Homo sapiens: one gene and its partners. The protein of the gene in region 4 interacts with the protein of the main gene of each other region in a pairwise test. Each region holds a gene or a part of one and is shown on either strand. Other genes may lie near its edges. The genes, in order: SAR1A, SLC10A6, SHISAL2A and GOLT1B.

Region 1 (7,010 bases), on a different chromosome or scaffold from region 4:
TAGAAGAAAATATACTGGCTTAGGGCAAGCCTAGTTAAAATGATGAAATAATTACTCTTGTTGAAGCAATACATATATCTTTTAACATATTTTCCAGTTACAAGGTAAATTACATTAATAAGTAAAAATGTAGTAAAGATTAAAATGGCAAGATGCTGTCCTGCTTTGTAAAAATTTTCAGTCAAGATTTGAGTTGAGTTTGGCTATATCAGGCAAATACTTAAAAGTTCATGAATAGTTATACATTATGGCTAACTTTATCCCAGCTCAATAGGGTAATATTGAAGGGGACTTCTGTGTATTATTTAATGCAACTTTTGACAAGTTTGAAATTACTTAAAAAAATAAATGAATAAAACAACTTCACTAAAGTAATAAGATCCTAATTCTAAAATGTAAGTAATTTAAAAGGTAAAAATGACACACTGCTTTTAAAAGGAGCTGGGAGGCACAAAAAAAATAAGTCAATAAACATGCTTTCCACTGAGTCATCACTTACCTTGCTCGTGCCCACCAAGATCAAAAGTTGTAAAGGTCATTCCAGCAATTGTTAGCTCTTCTGATGCTGAAAAATTGTTTAAAAAGAAGAAAAAAACTTGTCAACTCAACAACCCCCAACTACTAGTACTATAAGCCAATATCAATGCTTTCATCTTGTAAAGAAAAAGATACAAGAAGTTGAGTGTGGTGGTACCCGCCTGTAGTTCCAGCTACTCAGGAGGCTGAGGGCAGGAGGATAATCTGAGCCCAGGATTTTTGAGACCAGCCCAGGCAACGCCCCACTCCCAACAAAGAAAAGGAATACAAGGGTGAAATGTTCTTAAACTATTCTAAAAGCCAAAGGTTTCTTTTCTTCCAAGCTATTTTCCACTTCTTAGAAGTAGGTATAGGAGAGGTGTCCCTTTACAGGACCAGTGACAACAGATAATGACAAAGTTCCAGAGGTTTAGATCTGAAAGTACATAACCTGAGTGTGTCTTACAGGGAACTTTCTCGTATGAGTTGGCTTTTGGGACTTCAGTTAATAAAAGAACTCCACCAACTAGGGATTCATCCTCCACGCCTAACACTGACCTTTAAAGATCAAAAGGTCACCTGATATTTTCAAACCTACTCGGATGTAGTGTTGGAACATGTTGGCCCAATCTGTCATCTTTGAGCATGTGAAGAAGAGTGGTTTTGCCTGCATTATCCAAACCTAAGAATACAAGTTTTCCAGATTTCTTGTACAGTCCTAAAAGAGAAAAAAATTGTTAACACATTTGCTCTCTACAGACCAAAGCCTATTTGTAGTTAAATTACTGAGGGAAAGGCACAAACTTTGAAACCTGTATTTCAAGGAAATGGCTTTACCTAGGAACTGGAGCACACTGCTGAAGCCATTGTAGATCCACTCAAAGATGAAAGACATTATTAATGCTTACTACCTGTATAAAATATGAAAGTAGCAAACATTAGCTTTCTGAATGACAGTACAATTGTGGAGAGGTTAACTCTTGTTCCCTAGCCATGATGCACATTTATAGTCTCTTGTTTTCGGGAATAAGAAAGCAGGCCAGGCATGGTGGCTCACACCTGGAATCCCAGCATTTGGGAAAGCCAAGGCAGGCGGATCACTTGAGCCCAGGAGTTCACAACTGGCCTGGGCAAGAAAGCTGGACTCAATCTCTACAAATAACTAAAAAAATAGCTGGACATAATGACACACACCAAGAGTCCCAGCTACTCAGGAGGGTGAGACAGAAGAATTACTTGAACCCAGGGGTTTGAGGCTGCAGTGAGGCATGACGGTGCCACTGCACTCACTTGGGCAACAGAGGGAGACTCTGATAAAAAAGACAGGACAGGACAGGAGAAAGGAAAGGGAAGGGAAAGGGAAAGGGAAAGGGAAAAGGAAAGGGAAAGGGAAAGGGAAAGGGAAAGGAAAGGAAAGGAAAAGAAAAGAAAAGAGAGGGGAGGGGAGGCGGGGCAGGGGAGGAGGGGGAGGGGAGGAGGGGAAGGGGAGGAGGGGATGGAAGGGGAGGGGAGGAAGCAAAGTAAAGAGAAACTAATATTCTTTCTTGACACAGATTTTGCAATCTGGAGGAGAGTCTAGAATCCTTATATGTGCAAAAATAACTTGTTTCCTAATAGTTTTTGATCTATGATACTCAGAGAACTAGGAGTTAAAAATATAAAGGCATACCTCATTTGATGATACTTTGTGGATCCTGAGGTTTTCTGGTTTTTTTACAAATTGAAGGTTGGAAGCAGCCCTGAGTTGAGTAAGTGTATCAGTACCATCTTCTAACAGCATGTGCTCCCTTCATGTCTCTATGTTACATTTTGGTAATTCTCACACAATATTTCAAACTTTTTCATTATTCTTATATCTGTCATCATGATCTATGATCAGTGATCTTTGGTATTACTAGTATAATTGTTTTGTTGTGCCACAAACCACAACCATAGAAGACAGCAAACTTGACTTCCTCCACAGTCCTGCCCCCACCCCAAGCCTCCCTATTCTCCAAGTGAAAGTAACAGGTCTCTCCCTTGAAAGCAAAAGTTAGAAATGATTAAGCTTAGTGACGAAGACACATCAAAACCTGAGATAAGCCAGAAGCTAGGCCTCTTGCACTCAACAGTTACCCAAATTGCAAATGCAAAGGAAAAGTTCTTGAAGAAAATTAAAAGTGCTACTCCAGCAAACCCATGAACGTCAAGAAAATGAAACAGCCTTATTGCTGATAAAAAATAATAATAAAATAAAAACACGAGGTAAAAAAGCAAGTGCTGATGTAGAAGCTGCAGCAAGATAACTGATGAAGGTGGGTGGCTACACTAAACAACACATTTTCAATGTAGGCAAAACAGCCTTCTATTTGAAAAGCCATCTAGGACTTTCATAGCTAGAGGGGAGATGTCATTGCTTGGCTTCAAAGCTTCAAGGGGCAAGCTGACTCTCTTGTTATGGGCTAATGCAAGGTGACTTTACGTTGAGGCCAATATTCATTTACCATTCTGAAAATCCTAGGACCCATACTCATTTACCATTCTGAAAATCCTAGGACCCATACTCATTTACCATTTTGAAAATCCTAGGGCCCTGAAGAATGACACTAAATCAGTCCAAGTGGAGCAAGTGAGCGAGCAGAGTGGTTGTGTGGTTGCGTCTCGGAAACCAGTAGCACTTGCAGCATGGCTGACCAACTGACTGAGGAGCAGATTGTAGAATTCAAAGAAGTTTTTTCACTATTTGACAAAGATGGTGATGGAACTATAACAACAAAGAAACTAGGAACTGTAATGAGGTCTCAGGCAGAATCCCACAGAAGCAGAGTTACAGGACATGATTAATGAAGTAGATGCTGATGGTAATGGCACAATTGACTTCCCTGAATTTCTGACAATGATGGCAAGAAAAATGAAAGACACAGACAGTGAAGAAGAAATTAGAGAAACATTCTGTGTGTTTGATAAGGATGGCAATGGCTATATTAGTGGTGTAGAACTTCACCATGTGATGACAAACCTTGGAGTGAAGTTAACAGATGAAGAAGTTGATTAAATGATCAGGGAAGCAGATCCTGATGGTGATGGTCAAGTAAACTATGAGTTTGTACAAATGATGACAGCATAATGAAGACCTTGTACAGAATGTGTTAAATTTCTTGCACAAAACTGTTTATTTGCCTTTTGTTTGTAACTTATCTGTAAAAGGCTTCTCCCTACTGTCAAAAAAAAATATGCATGTATGGTAATCAGGACTTCATTCCTCCATGTGTTCTTCCCTTACTGTCATTGCCCTGAAACCTTATTTTAGAAAACTGATGAAGTAACATGTTGCCTGTGGCTTACTCCGGATATATCTAAGCCCTTCTGCACATCTAAACTTAGGTGGAGTTGGTCAAATAAGGGAACATCCGGGTTATGCCTTTTTTTAAAGTAGTTTTCTTTAGGAACTGTCAGCATGGTGTTGAAGTATGGAGTTGTAACTCTGTGTGGACTACGGACAGCCAACAATATGTACTTAAAAGTTGCACTACTGCAGAATGGGTGTATTATCCAGGTACTCCCAGGTACCTCACACACTGTTTTTTCTGTACTGCTGGTCCTGTACCAGAAACATTTTCTTTTACTGTTACTTGCTTTTTAAACTTTGTTTAGCCACTTAAAGAAAATGTGCTTATGGCACAATTTGCCTCAAATCCATTCCAAGTTGTGTATTTGTTTTCCAATTAAAAAAATTACAATTAAAAAAAGAATTATACTAAATCTACTCTGCCTACCACACATCTGTTTACAGCATGGTTTACTAAGTATTTTAAGCCCACTGTGAAGACCTATTGCTCAGAAAAAAAGATTTGAAGATATTACTGCTCATTGACAACGCACCTGGTCACCCATGGGCTTTGATGGAGGTGCAGAAAGAAGTTAATGTTGTTTTAATGTCTACTAACAACATCCATTCTGCTTCCCATGGATCAAGGAGTATTTTCGATTTGCCAGTCTTTCATTTAAGAAATATATTTCCTTTGGGAGGCCGAGGCGGGCGGATCACGAGGTCAGGAGATCGAGACCATCCCGGCTAAAACGGTGAAACCCCGTCTCTACTAAAAATACAAAAAATTAGCCGGGCGTAGTGGCGGGCGCCTGTGGTCCCAGCTACTTGGGAGGCTGAGGCAGGAGAATGGCGTGAACCCGGGAGGCGGAGCTTGCAGTGAGCCGAGATCCCGCCACTGCACTCCAGCCTGGGCGACAGAGCGAGACTCCGTCTCAAAAAAAAAAAAAAAAAAAAAGAAATATATTTCACAAAGCCATCAATGCCATAGACTGATTTCTCTGCTGGATCTGGGCAAAGTAAACTGAAAACCTCCTGGAAAGGAGTCACCATTCTAGGTACCAGTAAGAACAGTTATGATTCACGGGAAGAGGTCAAAATATCAATATTAACAGGAGTTAGGAAGACAGTGATTCCAACCCTCGTGGAAAACTTTGAGGGGTTCGAGACTTTGGAGGAAGAAGTAACCTTAGATGTGGTAGAAACAGCAAGAGAACTAGAATTAGAAGTAGAGCCTGAAGATGTGACAACTGCTGTAATTTCATGATCAAACTAATGGATAAAGAGATGCTTCTTATGGATAAGCAAAAAAAGTGGTTTTTTTGAGATGGAATCTAGTCCTGGTGAAGATGCTATGAATACTGTTGAAATGACACCAACAATTTAGAAAATTACAAAAACTTACTTGAGTTTACATAAACTTACTTGAGCAGCAGCAGGGTTTAAGAGGACTGGTTCCAATTTTGAAATAAATTCTGCTTTGGGTAAAATGCTATCAAACAGCATTGCATGCTACAGAGAAATCTTTCTTGAAAACAAGCATTAACTGATGCAACAAACTTCCTTGTTGTCTTATTTTAAGAAACTGCCACAGCCATCCCAACCTTTAGCAATCATCAACCTGATCAGTCAACAGCTATCAACGTGGAGTAACATGGAGGTAAGATCCCCAACCAGCAAAGAGGTTATGACTCGCAGAAGGCTCCGATGCTTGTTAGCATTTTTTAGCCATAAAGTATTTTTTAAATAAGGTACGTATTTTCTAAGACGTAATGCTACTGTACACTTAACAGACTACAGTATAGTGTAAACGTAACTTTTATGTGCACTAGGAAACCAAAATATTCGTGTTACTTGCTTTACTGTACTTGTTTTATTTCAGTAGTCTGGAACTAAACTCACAGTATATCCGAGGTATGCCTACACTTTCTTTTACTGTGTGACTTACTCCTCCAGGCAGCGGTTCATTCACATTCCCTAGACATACGACTGCTGTCATCCAGTGAAGAACAACTCTAGGAAATCAGTCTTATCAATAATGTGAATCAGAATGCCACTTAGATGCACTAAATAGAAAATAAGAATGAAAAGCACATTGATTTGAATGAAAAACATATTAATCTATCCTGTAAACAACTCTAAAAAACAAAAGTCACCCAAAATTCTACTGGCCAGCACCACTTGCCCTGCTCCATTTACCAATGTTATCTCAATATTTAATCATTTTTGCAGACACGGGTCTCAATTTATAAAAAGAAATGACATCACTATTTTAGAGAACCATTAAGGGATAAGAAGAGAATCTTTTCATACATGAATAATCACACCCAAACTCATTTTACAAATAGATTTTCTTAAAATAAGAATACTTATTCAGGCCGGGCCCCCGTGGCTCACACCTGTAATCCCAGCATTTTGCAAGGCTGAGGTGGGGGATTCCTCCCTGACCTCAGGAGTTCAAGACCAGCCTGGGTAACATAGAGAGACCTGCATCTCTACAAAAAAAAAAAAAAAAAATTAAAATTAGTCAGGCATGGTGGCACGTGCTTGTAGTTCCAGCTACTTGGGAGGCTGAGGCAAGAGGATTGCTTGAGCCCAGGAATTTGAGGCTGCCGTGAGCTATGATTGTGTCACTGCACCCCAGCCTGGGTGGCAGAGCAAGACCCTGTCTCAAGAAACAAAAAAGCAAAAAAAGAATACTTTTCAGGATATAGCAGTAAGTTCCCAAGCCAGTAAATAACTTAACTGGTACTGATATTAACACTACTTTTTCTATTGTTTCTCATAGCTATCAAAAGCTACTAAAAGGTTTACATATATTGGTAATAAGCAAAATGACCTCTGAATGAAATTAAGAGGGTAGGATCTAGACACACTGGTGGGTCTTAAGGTTTCTCAGCATTGTCTGGCCATGCTGAATTTTTGCTTTAGTATCTCAGATGCGGTGCAGAAAAATGGAAGGTCCACACTTTTACTCCTCTCCATCAGCAGGAGCATCTGAACACAGGGCTTTATACTAGATATGACCAACTGCATTCAAAATTTTCATGAACAGTAACCAGTAAAAGCATTACCCACAAAAAAATCCCCTTACATTCAAAGAATGCCAGATGAAGAATAAAATGAACAGCTGGGCGCGGCAGCGCTTGCTTGTAATCCCAGCTATGCAGAAGGCTGAGGCAGGAGA
Region 2 (7,832 bases), on a different chromosome or scaffold from region 4:
TCCAAAGTAATGTATATTTGGCTGCAATCACATGTGCATACACATATATATTTCAATATTTGTATATGTGTAATATTTAATATTTGAAAAACATTTCACAGCCATTCAGCACAAGTCTTAGTCACAGAAACATTGAAATAACTTGGCATTTGGGAGACCTCAAGGCTTTTAATGAGACCTAACAAATCAACGCTTAAGTGCAGCAAATGTCACTTTGGAGCTCAATGATTGCTCATAGAGATCTTGTCTTAACAAGTTACGAAGTCTAAGTTCTGATAGTGGATTCACTTTTGTGAAGTATATTTGTTTATAATTATAAGCTCATTTTCAGATGGCTTTTTATATTTTTCTGTGAAACTCCCACTTGTGCGCCAAACTATCCTGTCTATGTGCCTTATCGTCCCCAGAAATGTCAGGCTTTCAAAAAGTGTATCACAGGGGCAGCACATGCAAGTTTGGATTGAAAAAAAAGTTGGTAAGTTGGGGTGAACAATTTCCCGTCAGTTATTTCCTACCCAATGGGTGTTCACCCACCTGCAACAATAAGAAATCCATCTATCAGCTGGAAGAGTCCATAGGCCAGTGGGAAACTCAACATCTGGACCAAGTGCTCAGCAGTGAAAGATAACTGGAGCATGGTGATGCACATCTGAATATTCTGAGCTCCAGTTTCTAAGGAAATTGTCCTGCACCTACCAAAAAGAAAATGTTTCAAGAGTAACGCACTAGCAATAAGAACTATTCTAATATTTTCTCATATGCATCATAACAATTAGAAGCTATGACCTCAGGCCACTGAAAATGTGTACTCATTCCATAGTTATTTGCTGAGTGCCTATTCTGCAGGTGGTCTTCTGAGAGGCACGGTGGAGTGAGGCTTTGCAAACCCTGCCCTAGGCATCTGAGTAAAAAGACAAGATAAACACACAGGAGAGGTTCAGCAACAACACAAGACAAAGTATGGCCAAAGGCCACGCAGATGTAGAAATTTAGAAAATGGCAGAAGGGGTGAGAGAAGGCTTCACAGAGGAGTGGGATTTAAGGATGGAAAAAAATAGAAGAAGCTTTTGATGAGGGGGAAATATTATAAAAATTAAAGTTCCAGGGAGAGGTGTGAGTGTGGCCTGTTCAGCAGGCATTGCATATACTGTAAGCCAATCTGCAGAGAGGAGAGGACTGGAGGAGACAAGAATGGAAAGTTGAGTTAGAGATATGATGCAGGACATGGTGGCTCATGCCTGGAATCCCAGCACTGAGAGGCAGAAGCGGGAAGATTGCTTGAGCCAGGAATTCAAGACCACCCTGGGCAACAGAGTAAGACCCTGTCTCTACAAAAAGAAAAACGTATATATATTTTTGAAAGACATATGAAACAATATAAACTAACCAACACTTAAAAACAAATAAACAAGGCCAGGCACAGTGGCTCACGCCTGTAATCTCAGCACTTTGAGAGACCAAGGTGGGTGGATCACCTGAGGTCAGGAGTTCGAGACCAGCCTGGCCAACATGGTGAAACCCTGTCCCTACCAAAAATACAAAAATTAGCCTGGCGTGGTGGCACACGCTCCTGTAATCCCAGCTACTCGGGAGGCTGAGGCACGAGAATCACTTGAATCCAGGAGGCAGAGGTTGCACTCCAGCCTGGGCAACGAGGTCTCAATAAATAAATAAATAAATAAATAAATAAATAAATAAAAACACAAAAACCCTGAATAAAGACCAAATTCCTAAAATGATTATCTTTGGTGAAAGAGTTTGGTAATAATTTTTCTTTTTGCTTTCTACTTTTCTATACTTTATTGGTTTTCTGGTTGCATAAAATGAAGTAAACCTCATTTGAAAAGACAAAGGAGGGAATAGAGGGAAGACCTGGGCAGGATGTTGAGGGCTGAGTTAAGCAGTTTCACGTCTCCAGTTTATAAAGGGAGCCTGCAGTGTTTTATATGTGGAAGTGAGGAGATAAAAGAGGTGTTTCAGAAAACAAACAAGCACCTCTGTGCAAGCTGGACTGGAATGGGGAAGTAACAAGGGTGTGTAATGAGGGGGTGAAAATGCTGTCAATGGTACAGGGCAAGCTCTGTGTTCATACGTTATTTCTACTTATTCTATTGCTTGCTACACTTGTCTCAAACCACCCTCACTTCTTTGAGACTTTTGTCAAAAACTCGATATGATTAAGCTACAAAGCTGGAACTCACACCTGCACCATTCATGAGCCAAATCTCAGTCCTGGGCTTTGTCAGGCTATCAGGTATGAAAAAGATGGGATTGTGGACTACATCTTGCCATAGGAGTACTTTCTGTCCAGAGCCAATTGCATTTCAACCACTCAACAGACTGTGTTCCTAATTGTTAAATTTGGAAACAAACCCAGGTCCAAATCCTAACTCCACAATTTTCTAGCTCTATGAACTTGGTCAAGTCACTTAATTTCTCTGAAGGGTCTGCTCATCAGTAGAATGAGGGTAGTGATAGGATCTACTTCTCAAGCTTGTAGTAAGAAGTAAATGAGATAGATGGGGTAAAGCTTTACCGGGCGCTTAGTACAACCCTAAATGTTCCCCAAGTGGATTAGAAGTAGCATAAAGCCAATTAAAAATTCCCAACTTTCACCTTTGGAATTCAACTGCATAGTTTACTCTTCTTTAGTAATTTTTTTCTGCTTTTAAAAGTAGTACATACTTATTGAAAAGCTTCAAAAATATACCAAGGAAATACTAAAGAACTAAAATTATCCTTAATTTCGCTACTCAAAATTAAACATTGTTACCATATGGTGTATTTCTTCCAGTATATTTTGATGCATAGAATTCTTTTTGCTTTCTTCTACGAAGTGGGAATCAAATCATGTCGTTTTCTATTCTTTTTTAACTTAAATTTATCTCTTCCTATCAATTTGGCCTTTGCTTTAATTTACATAAAGAATTACCACAATATTTTCCATGAATTGCCATGAATGACCCTCTTTTATGCTTAGTTATCCTGTCGATTCCACTATGTAAGTCAAAACTCTTCATGTCTCCTGACACAGGCAGCAAAGCCTACCAGTGGCAGTGTGTTAAATTTACCTTCCTCAAAAAAGTTTATGGATAGTTTAACTATACCTTTGCCAAGACTGGTGGGTAAAAAGTGCCAGCAGAAAACCCGTGACATGGCCAATCAAAGGAAAGATGAAACTGATGGTCAGAAGGGTGATGTCTGAATTCCAAGATCCTTTCGCCAGGACCACACCAGCAACTGCGACCACCAGAAGGAGGACCCCACCAACAACGGCCCCAATCTGAAGCAAACAATAAAATAAGTGAATATAAACTCAGGGTTTTTTGCTCTATGATACAAAGTCCATCAAGGTTGTAAAATGCTTGGGATCTAGAAATTTTAGAACAAAGAAGGGACTTAGAGATGACTAAATACAATTTCATTTAGTAGAGGAGAAATCTGAGTTCCAAAGTGGTCAAGTAACTTGCCTATGCTAGAAATTGGTGGAGTTTGACACAAATCTAAGTCTCGCTTTAGCATATCTACCTTTCTCTTCAAGTAGAAGATTTTGCCAAAAGGATTGGGTAGTAGAGTTCTATTGTGGGTAGAACAAAAGTGTAAAATGAATGGAATCTGACAATGAGCTTCCAACACCCCTGCACACACCTCTATGACCCTCTGCTTGTGACCTCCAGTCTGACGTCTGCCCTGCCTGACCATCTGCCTCCCCTCCCACCGCCCCTTCAACCACCAGCAGCTGCCTGCTGCTTTGATCCCTGTCCTTCTCCCCTCCAAATAAAATTTACCCATTCTTCATTGGACAATCTGAGCTAATACTCATGATCACATGAGAAATACTGATGGAGACCTCTATCCTCTCCCAAATGGATACTGTCCTTACTTTTGTTGTTTAACAAGAACAGAAACAAAAGCCAACAATAACAAAATTTTGAATAGTTTGAGATTTAGATAAAATAGGAAGAAAGCATAACCTAGGGTATTTTGGGAAAATCAGGATCTTGGCAAGCTCCTGTTCATATCATGTAGACAGTAAACTGTGTACCTAGTTACAGTGTCAACCTTGATTTGAAATGATTCAGGATGTGAAGGAGGATGGTCGTAGGAAACTAGAGAAGACAACAAACAAACAGAATGACCCAATATACCATAAATGTGTTCTGGGGGTCATTTTTACTGTTCAAATACAGAGACAGACTAGACCCCTGCCTAAGAAAAAGATGCTAAGACAAGAAAGCCTCTTGGTCAGGCATGGTGGCTCATGTCTGTAATCCCAGAACTTTGGGAGGCAGAGGTGGGCGGATCACCTGAGGTCAGGAGTTCAAGACCATCCAGCCAACATGGCAAAATCCTGTCTCTACTAAAAAATACAAAAATTAGCCAGGCGTGGTGACACATGCCTGTAATCCCAGCTACTCAAGAGGCTGAGGCAGGAGAATTACTTGAACCCAGGAGGTGGAGGTTGCAGTGAGCCAAGATTGCGCCACTGCACTCCAGCCTGGGTGACAGAGCAAGACTCCGTTTAAAAAAAAAATGAAAGAAAGAAAGCCTCTGAATGTAACATCCCCTCTTCCTCTCTCTACCAAAGATTTCAAAGTTTAATATCCACCAAGAGCAAATGGGGAACACTTAAGTTTGTTCAGAAAATGTGTCAGATCTAAAATTAAAATGGAACTAAGGCCTCTGAATGTAACATCCCCTCTTCCTCTCTCTACCAAAGATTTCAAAGTTTAATATCCACCAAGAGCAAATGGGGAACACTTAAGTTTGTTCAGAAAATGTGTCAGATCTAAAATTAAAATGGAACTAAGAACAGGGAATGAAGATATACTAAAATAATGATTACATTAGCCTAGTTTTTTTTTTTTACTAAGGTAGTCTAGAATATTTATGCATATTATTAAATGTTTTGCCATAAATCCTATGAAATACCCAAAAGAAAAGAGTTTTAAATTTGCTCGTTACAGAAAATAAAACTGACATGTAAAAAAATGTATCTGGTTTCTCCATTGACACTGATGGACTGATAGAGGAGCTGGAAAACTCCAAAAGCATTATTTTTGTTATTGTTGTTAAATGCCCTTTTAAGAAAAATAATCAAAGATAGAGTACTTGAAAAGCAAGAAGTTTCCATGATCATTTCCCTCCTCTTGTTTTGTAAACAAAATCATAACTACCACACTGGAAATTTTCTCCTACTGAAATAACAATAATAAATGTGGAAAAGGGGCCAGGCACAGTGGCTCATGCCTGTGATCCCAACACTTTGGGAGGCCAAGGCCAGAGGATCCCTTGAGGCCAGGAGTTGCAAACCAGCCTGGGTAACATAGCAAGACCCTGTCTCTAAAAAAAAAATCTTTTTATTAGCAGGGCAGGATGGTGCATGCCTGTAGTGCTAGCTACCTCAGAGCTTGAGATGGGAGCATCATTTGAGCCTAGGAGATCAAGGTTGCAGTGAGCTATGATCGTGTCATTGCACTCCAGCCTGAGTGACAGAGCGAGACCCTATCTCAAAAACTTAATTAATTTTTAAAAATAAATGTGGAAAAGATGGGACTTTATTCCATGAGTACAGCTAAAAAAGGAGAGTGAAAATCAGGTGTGCACTATTGATGTTAAAGTCATCCATATGCAATACAAATGTACTATACTAAGCCATCCTCCAGCTCTCTGTGCCCAGCTGATTTTCTGCTTGGCAAGCCCTCTCCTCTCATTCTCCATCGCACTGAAGGAATGGTGGGAATGGTTTGGCCTTGTGCATAACTGGGAAAACAGTGTCCATTAGCACAGGCATATAGAGTGGCAATGTTCTGTGAGGTAGAGCCAAACGGCAAAAGCTTAAACCAAGCCAAACCATAAACCAGAAAACAAAATTAACTGAGATTTACTACATGAAACTCTAAATAACCCCAAATGTTTACTTCTTTATAAATGTAAAATATAACTGAAACATTTTTAAAATCTTCATGAAAGCCACACATATTACAACCTTCTATCTGCTAAAGTGATACATAATCAGAAAAAAAATGGAAAGCACCCTAGGAGACTCACACCATTGTTAAGAATGCCTCCTCTTTACGTTTTGTTGTTTTGTTTCATTTTTTAGAGATGGGGTCTCACTCTGTGATCCAGGCTCCAGTGCAATGGCATGATAATGGCTCACTGTAGCCTCAACCTCCTGGCCTCAAGCAATCCTCCCACCTCAGCCTGCCAAAGTTCTGGGATTACAGATGTGAGCCACTGCACCTGGCCTCTTGAATTATTTTTAAAAGCCATTTAACAAAGACATTTGCTTGTTTCTCCAGCAGACAAAGGGCAGGACTGCAAAGACAAGAGGAGGTAGAAAGTTCTAGTCACCATCATTCCATAGCTAGACTCCTCAGTGCTTCCTGGATGATTTCATTTAAACAGTCTTATTCATGTAGTCAGCAGCCCTTGCTCATGTGTACAAACAACAGCTTTGGCCGTGACCCCAGGAATGCTTCTGCAAGACAGCCCTTCCTCCTACTCTTCCAAGAAACCAGCCATATTACTAAACACTGGGGTTCCCTTTCATGCTCACTTGAACAGCTTCTGCCTCAAGAGCACCTGTGTGAAGCCTTGTTTATGGATGGGCCTGGGCTCTTCTGTCCACACACAGGCTTTAGCTTTCCTGACACTAAATCAATAGTTGCTTATTTTCCAGGGCGTCATAAGCCTCAGGGTACAGAACTATGGGAGTGGCAAAGCAAGGCTTACAGGGTGGAGGAAATATGATCCCTGGATCCAAAACCACAGGATGTGTAAGAAGAATTTCTGGGTGTGGGGCCGTACTCAACAAGCTCACTTGTCCCAGCCACTGCTCACTTCTGTCTTTCAGGCCCCTGAGTCTGAGGACGTGCCAACAGTGGCCATGAAGTCACTCACCTTGAGAATGATTTTGGATTGTTTTGGCCATCTGTAATTCACATAGACACCAAAGGCCACAGGAATGGTCAGGCACACAAGGGTAATTCCTAAAGAGAAGAAAAATCCATGAGAGGGTTTTCCCTCTCACCCTGACTGCACAGTACTTCCCAACAACTTCTATTTCAATTAGGTAACAGCTTTAAACTGACATTTTCCCATGCCACTTCCCAAGTCTGGATAAATGCCTACAATATTGGCTCCAAAGTTATATAAGCTGCTCATAACATTTTGCGTCTTGTGAGTGCCTTTCAGAACATATTATCAAAGCAGAATATATTAAATAACTTACTGATCAGAAAAAAAGTTGCACATAAAATCATGGTTTCTAAATTAAGGTTTCCCTCAAATTTTACAGATTCAGTGGGCTCCCGCTATTGTGAGGAAGTGGGTTCATTCATGGTTTTGAACTATGGGCCATGGGTTGTAAGCCTTCAAGGTGTTTACCTGAGACACCAGATTGACACTGAGAGTCTTAAGAATCATAGTGTTGGCCAGGCACGGTGGCTTACACCTGTAATCCTAGCACTTTGGGAGGCCAAGGTGGGTGGACTGCCTGAGCTCAGGAGTTTGAGACCAGCCTGGGCAACACGGTGAAACCCTGTCTCTCCTAAAATACCAAAAAAATTAGCCGGGTGTGGTGGCCTGCACCTGTAGTACCAGCTACTCGGAAGGCTGAGGCAGGAGAAGGCAGAAGTTGCAGTGAGCCGAGATTGCACGACTGCACTCCAGCCTGAGTGACAGAGCAAAACTCTGTCTCAAAAAAAAAAAACAAAAAAACATAGTGCCTATCACTTTTTCAAAAACTGACCACACTAGAAAAGGCAGATCATTTCACCACATTTCTCTTCTAAGCTTGCTAAACCCACAGAGATCTTTAGGAAAAT
Region 3 (7,832 bases), on a different chromosome or scaffold from region 4:
TCCTAGTATTTTCTCTCAACTTTAAAATGGTGATAGAGATATTTGTGTGATAGTACAGAGACAGTGTGGAGCTTTGGGGCTGGTCAGAATCTGTCACTTATTATCTATGTGGATTGGAAAAGTTATTTAACTTCCTAGTATTTTCTCTCAACTTTAAAATGGTGATAGAGATATTTGTGTGATAGTACAGAGACAGTGTGGAGCTTTGGGGCTGGTCAGAATCTGTCACTTATTATCTATGTGGATTGGAAAAGTTATTTAACTTCCTAGTATTTTCTCTCAACTTTAAAATGGTGATAGAGATATTTGTGTGATGGAATTGTAAGAACTAAGAGAAATAATGCACATGAAAGTGACCAGTGCATATGTTAGGTGCTCAATAAGAGAGTTCCCTTTCCTTGGTTCATAGGTGTGGGAAGTGAAATTCAGTGTGGAAGTGAATTGTCCGAGATCTCCTAGCAATATCATAGCAGACTGAGACTTAAAGAACATTACCTAAGACTATCCAAGGGTTAGATGCTCTCACACATTCACAACCCTGGCACTTCTCATTTTACACATGAGAAAACTTGAGAAAGGTTAAGTTACTATCTGGGAGTGTCCCAGTGAGAGGCAGTGGCAGAGCTGGGTTGAAAACTCAGGCCTGTCTCATCTCAAGCCCTGGCTTGTCCTGTCTACTACTGTCTGGATCTCTCTTAACAACCTGATCCACTCAGATCATCTGAAAAATACTCACTGACCCTCTAGTGTCTTCTGGGCACTGTGCTGGCCCCTGGGGACACAGAGGTGAGTAATTCTCTCAGCACCCAGCCAGGACCCTTTCCCTCTTCCACTAACCCCTTCCCTACACAGCTCTTGTGTCTTGTGGTCCCTTCCGTTGCCCTGGAAACTCTGACGTGGCATGCTTTAGTGGCTCAGACAATGCTTTCTTCGGGGGTTGGATGGGCTGATCTCTGGGGTAACATCCCATGTCAGTGTGTTCCCATTCTGTGACCCCAAGGTGGCTAAAGGCTCTAGGGTGACTCTTCCTGGACTCAGACATAATGTGATTCATAAATACCACAGACAATTGCAAAGTGCAGGAGAGGAACTGAAAGTCCTCAGGATGTCTAGGGCATCAACGTGCTCTGAACCTTGAAATAACTCTTCCGGCATGCTCCTAACAGAGCCCGGATATTGCAGGGTGGAGACCTTGTTTTGCTGTAAATTCCGTTTGGCCCTTTTCATGAAAGTCAGTCCTTAAAAACTTCAAAATCTCCAGGTAAGCACTGTTTCCTGGGAGAGACAGTGCTCAAGGAGAATTGCTATCTTTAAAATTGTGCCTCAGGAAGTGAAGACACCCTGTGGAGAAGCAGTTGGTGCTGTCACACCGTCTGGTCCACTTGCCAAACACCCTCCTCCATCACTAGTTCTGTTTTTTTACGAGGGTGTGAGCCAGAAGACAGCAGCCTTGCCGGAAGGCAGAGTTTGTGGTCAGACCGTGTCTACAGCACCTCATTTCATCCTTCCCACCACCTGGTGAGATAGAAACCTTTATAAAGGAAGAAAATGAAGGTCAGAGTGGTAAAGTGATTTTTCAGCTTAAATGTGGCAGAACCAGGATTTGAACTTAGAACTACCTGACTCCAAAGCCCTTGGTTGTTAGATTGTCCCTCCAATTCTTTCTTAGGAGTCACAGTGGGTTTTTATCTTTCAGAGTCAGAACAGTAAAATCCTCGAAGACTCGAGGCTCTCTAATTCAATTTCCTACCCAGGGTAGGAATCTCTAACTTCACTGAAAGATATAACTCATTCGTGTGTCCTGCACAAGCTTCTCCCATGACAGGGACTCATCCCTGCTTGAGGCAGTACATTCACCATGGAACAACTCGGATCATTTGAAGTTCATCTCATGCCAAGCACAGATTTTCCTTCTTTGGAGCCTGCCCTGTTGTTCCCAACTCTGTCCTTGGAGTTTAGTTCCTCTGTCACCAGGACAGACCAGCAGAGACAGTGCCTGCCCCCTGACTGACCTCCGATCTGGAATGTATCACCCCAGAGTCAGGGAAGAGGATGGGCAAGAAAGCTGGAGAAAGAATGGTAGACAGGGACAAACAAAACTCTCCCCCTCACTCCTCAAAGGGCCTCTCTTAGAGGCCCCTTTCTATCCAGGAACCCAGAGTTGTCCCACACACGGGTCCCAAGCAAAGCACAATTCTCCTAGATAACAGCCCTACGAACAGTAAGCATATCTCAAATGAGAAAATAATGTTTAATTAAAGTAACTAAAGAACTAAAAAGCCCTACATACTCAATGTAAAAAATGTGAAAAGGACAAGAGAAATGAAAAGAGAAAGAAGTCATGAGTAATCCAGTGTCTAAGCTTGGATTCACCAGGAGACTCTGAGATGAGGATTTGATGGCAAGTAGTTTATGTGGAAAGTGATCCCAAAAATCACTGGTAGAGGATAAGAAAGTGAGACAGGGAGAGAAAGAAGCCAACAATGGGTGTATTACCAAGCAAATTACACCAGAGGTAACTGGAGCTTAAACTCTGCCAGCCAGTGTAGAATGTACTCCTCAGGGTTATCCCACCTGACGGCCAGGAAGCTGGATATTTAGCTAACAATTTCTGTCAGTCATCGGTCATGGGCTGGTGGGGTAAGGAAGGTATTGATTATCCTGCACTATTGACTTGCCAGTGTGTCCACAGAGCCTGTTCTGGGCCCAAGAAACCCCTCAGACAAAGAGGTAACAGCTGTTTGCAATAGAAACTTTGGCCAGGATAGCCAAGGCGGGCAGATTGCTTGAGCCTAAGAGTTGGAGACAACCTTGGGCAACATGGTGAAACCCAGTCTGTAAAAAGAAATATTAAAATTAGCTCGGTGTGGTGGCACATGCCTGTAGTCCCAGCTACTCAACAGGCTGAGGCAGGAGGATCACTTGAGCCCGGAAGGTTGAGGTTGCAGTGAGCCATGATGGTGCCACTGTACTCCAGCCTGGGTGGTAGAGTGAGATCCTGTCTCAGAAAAGAAAAAAAAAAAGAAGGAAACTTTGGCTAGAGTATCAGAATATTCCACAATGATAAGATCCAAGGGGCCCCAGACAGGACATCCACATCCTGAACTATACCCAGAGACAGCCTGTTAGTTGGTGTATCTCCATCAACCTTGCATGTGTACATGTGTATAGTTATGCATATATGTATACTTATTTAGTTAAATTGGGGTTATGCCATGTAATTAGTAGTGTGTCCTGCTCTTTTCAATTAATATTATCAATAAGTTCATAAAGATTTATCCATTATCTTAGATATTAAAATCTAGGCTGGGCGTGGTAGCTTACGCCTGTAATCCCAGCACTTTAGGAGGCCGAGGCGGGCGGATCACGAGGTCAGGAGATCGAGACCATCCTGGCTAACACGGTGAAACCCTGTCTCTATTAAAATTACAAAAAATTAGCCGGGCGTGGTGGCGGGTGCTTGTAGTCCCAGCTACTCGGGAGGCTGAGGCAGGAGAATGGCATGAACCTGGGAGGCGGAGCTTGCAGTGAGCCAAGATTGCACCACTGCACTCCAGCCGGGGCGACAGAGTGAGACTCCATCTCAAAAAACAAAACAAAACATATTAAAATCTAAAAGATCTGAAAACATTTTTTTTTGAGACAGGGTCTTGCTCTGTCACCTAGGCTGGAGTGCAGTGGCACCATCATGTCTCACTGCAGCCTCCACCTCCCGGGCTCCAGCAACCCTCTCGCCTCAGCCTCCTGAGTAGCTGAGACTACAGGCATGTGGTCACCATGACAGGCTAATTTTTGTATTTTTTGTAGAAATGGGGTTTCACCATGTTGCCCAGGCTGGTCTTGAATTCCTGGACTCAAGTGATCGGCCCACCTTGTCATCCCAAAGTGCTGAGATTACAGGTATGAGCCACATCGCCCTGCCTGAAAACATCTATATCATTAATAAGGTCTCTATATATGCTATACTGTTCCATTGCAGAGATGTCCAATAATTTATTTAGCCATGGGAAGGCAGACTCTTCAAAGCTCTCAGGTGTTTTGGTTGAGTGAAATTAGCCATTAACTAACAGGGAGCGAAATCCTGCAGAAGTGGCAAGGGCAGGTGTCTGGGGCCAGAGTCAGGGAAGAAAATGGGCAGGAGAGCTAGAGAAGAAAGGGTAGGCAAGGACAAAGCCTGATGCCACCTATACCTTCTCATTGGGAGAGTGTTCCATAACACCTGACACATAGTAGGTACCAAAGGATATTTACCAACTGCCTACCACATGCCAGGGCCTAGACAATGGGAGGATAAGGCTGATTAAACATGGTCTTGGCCGGACACGGTAGCTCACGCCTGTAATCCCAGCACTTTGGGAGGTCAAGGGCGGGGGAATCACTTGAGGTCTGAAATCCCGCCTACCAGGGAGGCTGAGGCAGGAGAATCAAGACTCTGTCTCAAAACAAAAAAAAAAACAAACAAAAAAAAACATATTTGGTCTCTGCCCCTGGTTCCTGAGTTGAAGCTCCTAAAGCCCTTGTAGATAGAGATGCTAGGAGCATCATTTGTTCTAAAATTTGGTCTCTGAACCCCGAGTTCCTGACGCAGAGCTCCTAAATTCCTTATAATTTCCTGGGTGATAGGAGCATCTTTTGTTCTAATGAGATGACTCATGGTGGGCTCCTGGAGAGCCTTAGGATGGGGGCTGGTTGCCGGGGAAACCAACCATGTGATTAGAGCACTGGAACTTACAGCCCCACCTCACTCCAACCTCCAGGGAGGGGAGAGGGCCCAGAGGTTGAGTTGATCACCAATGGTAATCAATCATGCCTATGTAATGAAGCCTCCATAAAATCCCGAAGACAGGGTTTAGAGAACTTCTGGATTGCTGAACACGTGGAGGTCCCTGGAGGGTTGTGTGATTGGAGACCAGATGGAAGCTCCACGCCCCTCCCTTATACCTTGCCTTATGTATCTCTTCCATCTGGCCATTCAACTGTATCCTTTGTAATATCCTTCCTAATCAACTGGTAAACATAAGTGTTTTTTTGAGTTCAGTGAGCTGTCCTAGCAAATTAATCAACCCCAAGGAAGGGGCAATGGGCACACTGATTTATAGCTGGTGGGTCAGAAGTATAGGTGACAACCTACTACTTGCAATTGGTATGGGAGGGCAGGAGGGAGTCTTGTGGGACTGAGCCCGTAACCTGTGGGAGCTGACACTATTTGCCTAGAGATGGTTCCAGAATTGATGGTGTCTGCTGGAGAATTGCTTGACGTGTGGGGAAAACCCCCCCATACATCTGGTGTCAGAAGTGTTGTGTTGAGTGTTGTGGGAGGAAAAAAGGAAGCTGTTTCTTCCTTCAGACCAGGTGACCAAGGCCTGACTTGGGGCCAGAGGCAGTGAGGTTGGAGGGTGAGGGACCAGCAGTGGAGGTATTTGAGACATGGAGTTGACACTGACGTTGTCAGCAGAACCATGGAGGTTGGGTCAGAAGTTACCTGAGGCTTGCCTGGGCACGGTTGGCTCATGCTTGTAATCCCAACATTTTGGGAGGTTGAGGTGAGAGGATTGCTTGAGGCCAGAAGTTTGAGACCAGCCTGGACAACATAGCAAAACCTGGTCTCTATTTTCTTTTTTTTAAAAAAAGAGGCGGGGGTGAGTGGGAGGGGGTGCCAGCATGGTGGCTCATGCCTGTAATCTCAGCACTTTGGGAGGCCAAAATGAGTAGATTGCTTGAGCTCAAGAATTTAAGACCAGCCTGGGCAACATGGCAAAACCCCATCTCTTCAAAAAATACAAAAACATAGCTGGGCGTGGTGGCACATGCCTGTGGTCCCAGCCATTTGGGAGGCTGAGGTGGGAGGATTGCTTGAGCCCAGGAGGTTGAGGATGCAGTGAGCCTAGATGGCAACACTGCAGTTCAATCTGGGTGACAGAGCAAGAACTTGTCTTAAAACAAAAAGAAAAGAAATTACCTAAGGCTGGAAGGAGAGCTGGCTTTTAACTAAGGCCTACTATATGTGTCTTGATTCTTAAGAAACAGCAGTATGGGGGGGTCCCCTAAGACCATCTCCAGGTCCCTGGGGTGGGAGCAGGTGAGGAAAGTAGGGAGGGAAGGAGATGGTGCTGCTGAGCGGGGTCAGGTATGAGTCCTTGGTGGTGAGTCCTTGGCATATAGTTGGTGCACTTTCTTTCCCATGCTGAAGCATAGAAAGCTTGTTTAAGACAAGTAGGGACAAAACAAAAGTCAAAGCTGATTCCTACAACACAACACTAATTTTTTTTTTTTTTTGAGATGGAGTCTTGCTCTGTCACCCAAGCTGGAGTGCAGTGGCACGATCTCGGCTCACTGCAACCTCCGCCTCCCGAGTTCAAGTGATTCTCGTGCCTCAGCCTCCCGAGTAGGTGAGATTACAGATTACAGGAGCCCACTACCACATCCAGCTAAGTTTTGTATTTTTAGTGTTTAGACCATGTTGACCAGGCCGGTCTTGAATCCTGACCCTAAGTGATCTGCCCGCCTCGGCCTCCCAAATTGCTGGGATTACAGGCATGGGCCACTATGCCTGGCCTAAAATTTTTTTTAAATATTTTTATTCTGTACATTTTCTTCCCAGCAGGCTCATTCTAGCCTAGCTACAACACTTTTATAACATCTGTCTCCCAAGTCCCTTCCTGACTCTCAGCTCCCATGTGGTCTTCTCTTCCCAGCATTGGCGCTCTCATAGGCCTGTCCGTAGCAGCAGTGGTTCTTCTCGCCTTCATTGTTACCGCCTGTGTGCTCTGCTACCTGTTCATCAGCTCTAAGCCCCACACAAAGTTGGACCTGGGCTTGAGCTTACAGACAGCAGGTAAGGAAGTTGCCAGGTGATGTCCTTGTATTCGGTAGACTAGCACCTTTTCAAGGGGGGAGAAATGTAGAAATGATGTTTGGAACATTTGCCTCATGACTATTCCTGGAATATGCAGAAGCAGCGGCACATTTTTCTGGAGATTCGTGATCTAAACATTTCCATCCTAAACTCTTCATGTTTACATTGTTTGTCAAAATAATTTAATGTAGACAACACTCCATTTGTCACACAAAGATTAATCCATGTTGTGGATTGTTTAAGATGATGTTTTAATTTTAGCCTTGGGGAATGCAAACTGATTTTAATATTAACCCAAACAAAATAGAATTAATTTTTAAAATCTGCTGCTTCCAAACTCATAATTTATCAGAAACGAAATACAAGCGCTTTTATTGTGTGTATGCGTTTTTTTAAATAATCTGATGTTCCAGACTACCCATTTCTTCATTAGTATAGGTTATCAAGTGCCTCTAAGGGGCCAAAAATAAAGTGTTGCTTTTTCACAAGCCTTTTTTGCACACATTTTGACAACATCCTGAAAGATATTATGAAAGATACAAGTCTCTGGGCTAGGCGCGGTGGCTCACGCCTGTAATCCCAGCACTTTGGGAGGCCGAGGCAGGCGGATCATGAGGTCAGGAGTTCAAGACCAGCATGACCAACATGGTGAAACCCTGTCTCTACTAAAAATACAAAAATTAGCCAGGCATGGTGGCAGGCGCCTATAATCCCAGCTACTCAGGAGGCTGAGGCAGGAGAATCGCTTGAACCTGGGAGATGGAGGTTGCAGTGAGCCGAGATGGCGCCATTGCACTCCAGCCTGGGCGACAGAGTGAGACTGTCTCAGAAAGAAAGAAAGAAAGAAAGAGAGAAAGAGAGAGAGAGAGAGGGAGGGAGGGAGGGAAGGAGGGAGTAAGGAAGGGAGAGAAAGAGAAAGGAAGGAAGGAAGGGAGGAAGGAAGTCTCTATTGGCAAAAGATCTTTCAGTATAGTTT
Region 4 (7,623 bases):
AATTCTATTAAATAACTATTTAGTAGTTAGGATTAAACATCGGCAGCTTTGTTAGTTGAAGATGACTAATTTCTATCATTTCACAAATAACCTTGATGATTACATAAAAATTCTGAGATGTTTTTAGAAAGGAAGGTATATGGAAAGACACCTACTATGTACTGAGAATTTACCACGAATTAGGCCTTATGAAGTGCTTCACATACCTTATATATAACTTAATACTTCCAATACTACTGGAATGCAGGTATAATTACATCTTTTTAAAGATGGAGGAAATTGAAGTTTAGAGAGTTGACTTAAGTTGCCTAAAGCCACACTTCTAGATAAGCATTCGAACCAAGGTCTTTTGAATCCAAAGCTCATGTGCTTAACCATTAATGCCATACCTCTTCCCACAGAATTTTTATTTTTTAGGTTAAAGGTGTTTGGTTACATGAAACTCAAGGACACTGGAGTATTCTGAACTTCTGGGGGACGCATCTTTTAGGGGATTCAAGTTTAATATTAGCTTGTTATCTAACATAGCCAAGTAGAACTATTAAAAATTAACTGCGGTCAAAAAGGCCAATCTCTGAGTATGGTTTACCGTGTTATGAAGTGTTTATACAAAAATTTTATAATTTCTTTAACAAAATTGTGAGGTAAAAGGTAGCACTGGTCCTATGGTTCATATGTGCAACCATGGACCTAGAGGTAATTCAGTAACTTGTTCTTGATCATAGAAGCAGCAAAAATGTGTGTGTGGGTGCTGGTGGTATGGAGGCAGGTACAACAGTCTGTGAAGTCAGCATTCAACCAGTCTTCTCACTCCACAGACAATGGTCCTACAACTACAACATGGGAACCAAAATATTCCACTACTTTATCCAGTACAGTCCAGCGGGAGACATTGCCCAAAACATCTTTGCCACAACTGGTACTGGCAATGACATTGCCAAGTAGCTCCTGATCCACACTGGTCAAAAGTCTCAAATTGGCCTCATTGTGCCTTTTTCTCACCTCCAGGATCCCCCTTTTCCCTATCCGTATGCATTCATAAGCCCTCTGGCTATCAAAAGCCTTGCATAGAGCTGCCTTCTTCCCATCGGAATCATATCCAGTAAAACAAACTTATCTTCCTTCACTCCTCCCACATGTTTAAAAAACTGTCCACAAGTTAAAAAAAATATAAAAACAATTTAATAAAACGAATCTGTCTAACATAAGGAGCATACTGTGGAAATTGTATAAGGAAAGACACGCATAATCTAATGGCAAACACTGTTAGCATTTTGATATCTTATTCACAATTTTTTAAAAGCAGCATTGTCTCTCTTACCATACCCTTTGAAAAACAGAAGTCAAGCAAGAATTCAATTGAACATTAACTGTACTGGAGAATGCAATTATCACACTAGGCTTTTAGACAATGTGATGAAATGAAGATTTAGAGGCAGCATGCCCCTCCTCCGCCCCTCTGAATAAGTCTTGTCTTTTTTGGGGCGGTGAGGAAAGTCCTAGAATGCCTTAAAATAATCATGAATTTCCATTTATTCTACTCTGAGCAGTGCTTGGCCACTCTCTAAAAACCAAAATCCCAGAATAATCCTGACAAATCACTTGAATGATGGCCAATCCCTGCAGTTAAACACACTCACACACAAACACAATTTGAAATCCAAAATGCATTTGGTTCACTAATCGTTTTATGTTTCAATCCACTGTTTCACCTAAAACATGTGACAAGTGAACAGCAAAGAGTAAAATTTCATTGCCCTCACAAAATTTAATGAAGTGAGGAGAATGCTTCTCAGGGAGAATGCCCATAGTCCAAACCCACTCTCTTGTTTTTATAAAGCAGGCACTCATCACTATATTAAGTCTTCAAAAATATAATTTCTATGCACAGATTATTCTCAGATCTCAAATAAAGTTTATATCAAGTCTTCTTAGGTGATAGTGGGGTACAGTGCAAAAGGTTTCTGAGCCAGCACACCTGGGATCAAGTTTTGTTTCTGTCACTTTTTCTTTGACCATGCACTCAATTTCTTTTGTGCCTCATTTAACTTATGAAAGGGGCATGCTTCTGTGAGCCTTACAGGGCTCTTATAAGAATTATGCATAATGATTCACATGAAAGCACATGGTTAACTGAAAGAAAATACCTTTATATAATTGCCAGTAATTATTATTACACTAGATTCCTATCCCCTCAAGACTACACTTTTATTTTCTTTGATCAGAACAGGCCAGGCCAATGGACCAAAGTGGGCGGCAACCTTGGGGCAGGTGGCCCCAAGAGGCAGCCCCAGTCCAGCCTCAGGAGGGAAGACAGCCTGATTGGGGGGTGGCAGTGTGTGTAGGAGGCCTTAGAAGCTCTGTGAAGTTGGTCTGCCATGACTTGAATCTCCACAAGAAGACTCCACTTTAAAATAGGGCATTTTAAATAAACTTCTATTTTTCACTTCAATTCACTGTTTAAGTCTTAAAATATTGAAAATCTGAGTTAACTGGAGTGAAATGAAAGGCGTGGCAGATAAAGCAAAGTGAGACAAAAAGAGACTCTTATGAACATCAAAATATGAGGTACAGAGCTTGGGCAGACATAAATACAAAAATTATTAATATTAACAAAAAGCAGTAGGAAAGTGGAAATATTATAATGAAAGAAAAGGAAACCGATATCAATGCTAGCTTTAGAGATGAAATAGGCCTGGAGAACTCTGTGGCAGGCAGAGAGCGATGCTAAAATAATAAAACAAGCCACAAAGCACAATATACAATACTAACGAAATATATCCTTTAATGGCACACAAAGTGGCTTTTCTCTACTGCTTGAAACTTTAGCAGGTAGAAAAGTGAGAATGTTTCAAGAGACTTCTAAAAGGTTGCTTACAGTACTGGCAAAAAGCGAATATTCAAAATGCCACATTTAAGCGTAAGGACATTTTCAAAAAGAGCCTACTGTAGGTGACATTTAAAATACCGCCTCCCAAATAACCAGCCAGCCAGGGACTTGTAGAGGACCCGAAGTGTGTCATGCGCATAAACGATCCCGAGAGTGGGCCGCGGGCACCACGCAAACTTTCTCTTGTGGCAAGCCCCTAGAACAAAGCGCCCATCTCACTGGGGATGAGGAGATCAGCGCGACCCTGGAATGAGACAGACTCTGGGCTAAAGCTCCCCTCCCAACATAGGGCGTCCCACCCTGCCCCACAGACTCTTCTCCCAGGTCAGGTCCGCCAGTCCAAGTCTAGCCCCGGCATCCCGAAGGCAGCCCCTTAGGGTCCCAGCAGCCCTAGCTCTGTCTCGCAGGCCACCGCCCCCAACCCAGAGCTTCATTCATTGACCCCGGCGGAGGGGCGAGACCCAGCCGGGCGATGGGTGTGCGCGGCTCGAGGCGGGGGCCCCGGAGCAGGTGCTTACTCTGCGTGTCCGTTAAGGAGATCATGGCTGCAGTGGTGGGGACAGCGGCGACAGCACCTCGGAAAGCCCAGGGTGGGAAGCTGAGTCGGGAGAAATGAAGCCGGGAAACAGCCCAGGCGAGAGCCGCCACGTCTTCCGGAAACACGCAGCCACCCTCACTGCCGCTTTAAGAGCGCTTCCTATTGGCGAAACCTGCTTCCAATCTCAACCAATAACTCGTAATGTTGTTCGGTGACGCGCATGGTGACCACACCCCTTGACCAATTAGAGAAGGGAGTTATCTGTGATTGGCTGAACGGACCGACCCGGAAGGGTGGATGCTCTCAGCTGGCTGGCGGGAAGATTTTACTCCCGAGTAGCGGAAAGATCTGCTCGAGGCCTGGGTGCTTTGGTGTCGGAGATCCGAGAGTCGGAGATCGGAGAGTCGGACACAGGACAGTCGGACACCGGACAGTCAAACACCGGAGAGTTAGACCGGGCTTCTCGGTGGGGAGAGGCTCTGGGATAACTACTGTTACAGCTTTGAAGGGTCAAGGGTGTGCGCTTTTTGTTTCATCCTTCCCTTTCCTGCTGCAGGGCGAGGCCGGTCTGTAGCGGATCACTTCCTTTCGCCCACACATTGGCGGAGGAGAAACCGGAAAGTTAATCACTGCCCTGCTCTGAGAACTCGGGCCTTTAGGGGCACGTTCGCCTGCTGACCGGTCTTCTGATCTCCCCATTCTTTTCCATGCAGGAGGATTGGCCACCAAAGCCTGTTTATTAGCAGCTGCCATTTGTTGGTAAATACTACTGGGGATGCTTCTTCCACCCCCTGCTTCACAGTAGCGGAAGGGCGGGCGTTATTAATATTAAATTACTATTGCCTCTAAATGCAGGTGGCGGGGAGAGAGAGGATTTAGCCTATGGTATCTCAGTGGCGTTTCCTCCAACATTGATGACTGGCTGTCACCCTGTAACATTCTTCCTGTGGATGCCTAGCTTATACTGCTGAGTGACAGACCTGCTGTAGTTCAATTTCTGGATACATTTTATGTTGAGATATCTTTTGCTGTTAAATCACATCATTTTGGGAAGGAGCAGTCTTTTAACCGCATAATCAAAGGAGTCATTTAAAATCGTGGGGGAGAATTGGATATAGACTGTGTCTTTTCATAAGGGTAGAAACAGCCCCTGCTACCTTAGCAAACCTGAGCCCTCACTACATCAAGGCATTTTCCTGGGCTGTGCGGATACAAAGGTGAAGAGATTGAACCCCAGCCCTGCTAAAGGACCTTACAGTCTATGGAAGGAATGTTACATTTTCATTACGTGAAGAGATGTTTGTATAGATCAAGAATTAGAAATCCTTGGTTTACTCTCCTATTTAGCCTTCTTTTAATGGTGTGGTTATTCCACATTCTTTAGCAAGGCAAAAAAGAGTCAGCCTATCTTTCCGGCCTAGTGGTGGCTTCAGAATTCTGTGTAGAAAGGGCGTAAGGTCAGCAGTCTAAGGATAGGTGTTGCAGAAGTGACTTTTGGAGAGCATCTTAGTTTTAGAAAATGTCCATATTAGAGAGATAGAAGAGGTGTTTTTAGGATTATGGGGAATTTAAAGTTTCTACTCTCCAGCCCCATTTTCCACTTGTCCATATGCATGCTTAGGTTTTAGTCATTCATAGATACTTAGAAATCATTACAAACCATTTTCCCCTCCCCCCACCTCTAACTTAGAAAATCTAGCTTTTCTGTAGAATACCAGTTTCTCTTTTAAGATTGGGCTTATATTGTAATTCTTTAACGCAAGGGCTCAATAAAATGTTAGATGATTAATTTTATTATTTATGTTGATGTATTTTGCTTAATCTGGTACATTTGAATCTATCCAACTTATTTATAAGATTGCCATCCTCCCAGTTTTACAGGTAGGGAAAGAGGCTTGGAGGAACAGCATATGCAACTTTGCCTAACATAGTAATTTAGTCACATAGCAATTGGTGCTAGACCTGTTGAATGTTTGCTGTTTTTTGTTACATCACTTTGTATCTTGTGGATGTTTGCTGAGTGTCATTGCTACTGTATTTGTCATGTATACGTTTATGTGACTTTGGACACTTCTCTGAAATCTAGAGAGTTAGTCGTTCTGAGTGTTGTGGGTTATTAAGCTGAAATATAGAGTTTTCCATAAAAAATTAGTGTCAAAAGAACCATGTGGTTCTTATTTGAAAGGTCACTGCAATATATAATTTACTTTCTAACATTTTCCGTGCTTAGGAATGACAGATTACTGTTGAGTGAACATCATTAATAGTACTATTTTTAAAAACTTGTTGTCACTGTTGTGCTTTTATTTTTAGAAAGAAATTTGGATTATTTTAGAAACAAATTTGGAAAGAAAAAGAATGGCGTCCGTTTCAGGTTAGTAGCAATGATTACATTTTCTTCTTCCTTCTGTTCTATTTCTGTTTGTATGATATTTGAAAAAGTTTGTTTTAAAAATTCTGATTATAGAAATGATTTTTTTCAGCTTTTTTATTGAAGTAAAATACACATTACAAACTTTGCCATGCTAACCATTATTAAGTGAATAATTCATTGGCATTAAATGCATTTAGACTGTTGTGCAGTCGTCACCACTATCCATCTCCAGAGCTTTTTCATCTATCCAGACTAAAATTCTATACTCATTAATCCGTAACTTTCCATTACTTCTCTTCTCCTAATCCCTGATAGCCACTATTCTACTTTCTGTTTCTTGACTATTTTAGGTACCTCATATAAATGGAATCATATAACATTTGTCCTTTTGTGTCTAATTTTTACCTTATTTGTGTCCAAATAAAGGCAATAGCGGAATCATGCTTTTGCCTATTTCTCTTACTGCTGAGTATACACTGACCCCTTCCCCAAAAGAGCAGGTACAAATTATCTTTATTCGTCTTTGGGTGATGCTCATTTCTCTTCTTGCTGAATCATGTCCTCCTTGGTAATACTGTAATGTATCGGAGAGGGACCAAATAAAAGGAAAAACCCAAACTTGGTTTATATACAAATTTTAAAAAGCAAGAAAGACTTATAGCTATTACAGTTCTTGTTTTTCAATTGGTCATGTGATCATAGTTTGTACTTTATAACTGCCTTCTTCAACTACCCATTCTGTATTCCTTGGTTCTCAGTTGGTAATGGGTCTTTGCTTGGTGGGGACTACTTGCCTTAGTAGTTTCCTATATTTGGTTATTATAGTTTTCAATTAACTTTAATCACAAGGTAAGGGAATACTGAGAGGTGCACTAGAGGATCTTCTGCTTTCCAGACATACTCTTCCTTATCCCTATAGTGTAGTAGCTATCTGATTTCCCCTTAATAGTCAGGATCACTTACCCCAGCAAGTATAGTAATCGCCTTCTTTGCCTGTTCATTTGTTGGCATGAGGAACCCAAAGTGGCCAAGTGGCAGTCAACTTCCAGTTTAATGGAACTATTGCTTTTTCCCCTGGTACAAGCATTTCTTTCTTGGTAACCAAGACCTCTAGGCCAGCAAGAGTCCGATGTTTCAAGGATGGGAAGCAAAAATTTCACTAGCGGATCACTAAGGGTAATAGAAGAGCCACTCCCATTTCCACCGCTGATTCCCGTGAATCGTGGCAATGGGAGAAACAGCACTATTCACTGATGTATAGCATGCCATATCCTGGAGGCTACTAGTCCAGCCCTTAAAGTGCTGATACCCAGCTGGCAGCATAATTGAGTCTGCAAAATGCCACTCCATTATTTTCTCAGGCTAGCTGCTGCAGGTTGTTGGTGAACATAGTTAGACCAGTTAATATCTTGAACATTAGCCTTCTGTTGTGCTTTGTTTGCTGTAAATGAGTTCTTTGGTCAGAAGTAATTTGGTGGGGAATACGATGACAATCAGTAGGAATTCCGTGAATTCCTGGATGGTGGACATGATAGAGCACTGCAGGCAGGTATGGTAAATTCATATCCGGAGTAAGCATCTGTATCAGTGAGAACAAAGTGCTGCCTCTTTCATTATAGACGGTTCCAATGCGGTCACTTTGCCATCAAGCATCTGTCTGTCCCCACAGAGAATGGTGCCTCCATTGGAACTCAAGGTTGGTATGAGCTGTTTGCAGGTTGAGCACTTAGCTCTGGATGTAGCCAGATGGGTCTTCGTGAGTGGCAGTCCATGTTGCAGAAGGCACTTTGTTCTTGACTTCGTTGTGCAAGGACAAGTGTG

The links.
Region 1: the proteins of GOLT1B (region 4) and SAR1A interact in binary tests that used the Homo sapiens proteins (3 or more experiments, as listed by UniProt).
Region 2: the proteins of GOLT1B (region 4) and SLC10A6 interact in binary tests that used the Homo sapiens proteins (3 or more experiments, as listed by UniProt).
Region 3: the proteins of GOLT1B (region 4) and SHISAL2A interact in binary tests that used the Homo sapiens proteins (3 or more experiments, as listed by UniProt).

Annotation. Positions count from the first base shown.
Region 1 is NC_000010.11:70,160,505-70,167,514, forward strand, and holds part of SAR1A (small COPII coat GTPase SAR1A), read right to left. Parts: intron 2,256-7,010; exon of another isoform or gene 2,186-2,255; intron 1,428-2,185; 5' UTR 1,412-1,427; coding exon 1,354-1,411; intron 1,235-1,353; coding exon 1,115-1,234; intron 566-1,114; coding exon 500-565; intron 1-499. UniProt on the Homo sapiens protein: Small GTPase that cycles between an active GTP-bound and an inactive GDP-bound state and mainly functions in vesicle-mediated endoplasmic reticulum (ER) to Golgi transport.
Region 2 is NC_000004.12:86,824,886-86,832,717, forward strand, and holds part of SLC10A6 (sodium-dependent organic anion transporter), read right to left. Parts: intron 6,996-7,832; coding exon 6,907-6,995; intron 3,284-6,906; coding exon 3,108-3,283; intron 693-3,107; coding exon 535-692; intron 1-534. UniProt on the Homo sapiens protein: Transports sulfoconjugated steroid hormones from the extracellular compartment into the cytosol in a sodium-dependent manner without hydrolysis.
Region 3 is NC_000001.11:52,636,168-52,643,999, forward strand, and holds part of SHISAL2A (protein shisa-like-2A), read left to right. Parts: intron 1-3,807; exon of another isoform or gene 3,808-3,900; intron 3,901-6,695; coding exon 6,696-6,835; intron 6,836-7,832.
Region 4 is NC_000012.12:21,497,734-21,505,356, reverse strand, and holds the start of GOLT1B (vesicle transport protein GOT1B), read right to left. Parts: upstream 3,569-7,623; 5' UTR 3,434-3,568; coding exon 3,409-3,433; intron 1-3,408. Other genes in the region: RECQL (ATP-dependent DNA helicase Q1), read left to right, coding at 5,787-5,802. UniProt on the Homo sapiens protein: May be involved in fusion of ER-derived transport vesicles with the Golgi complex.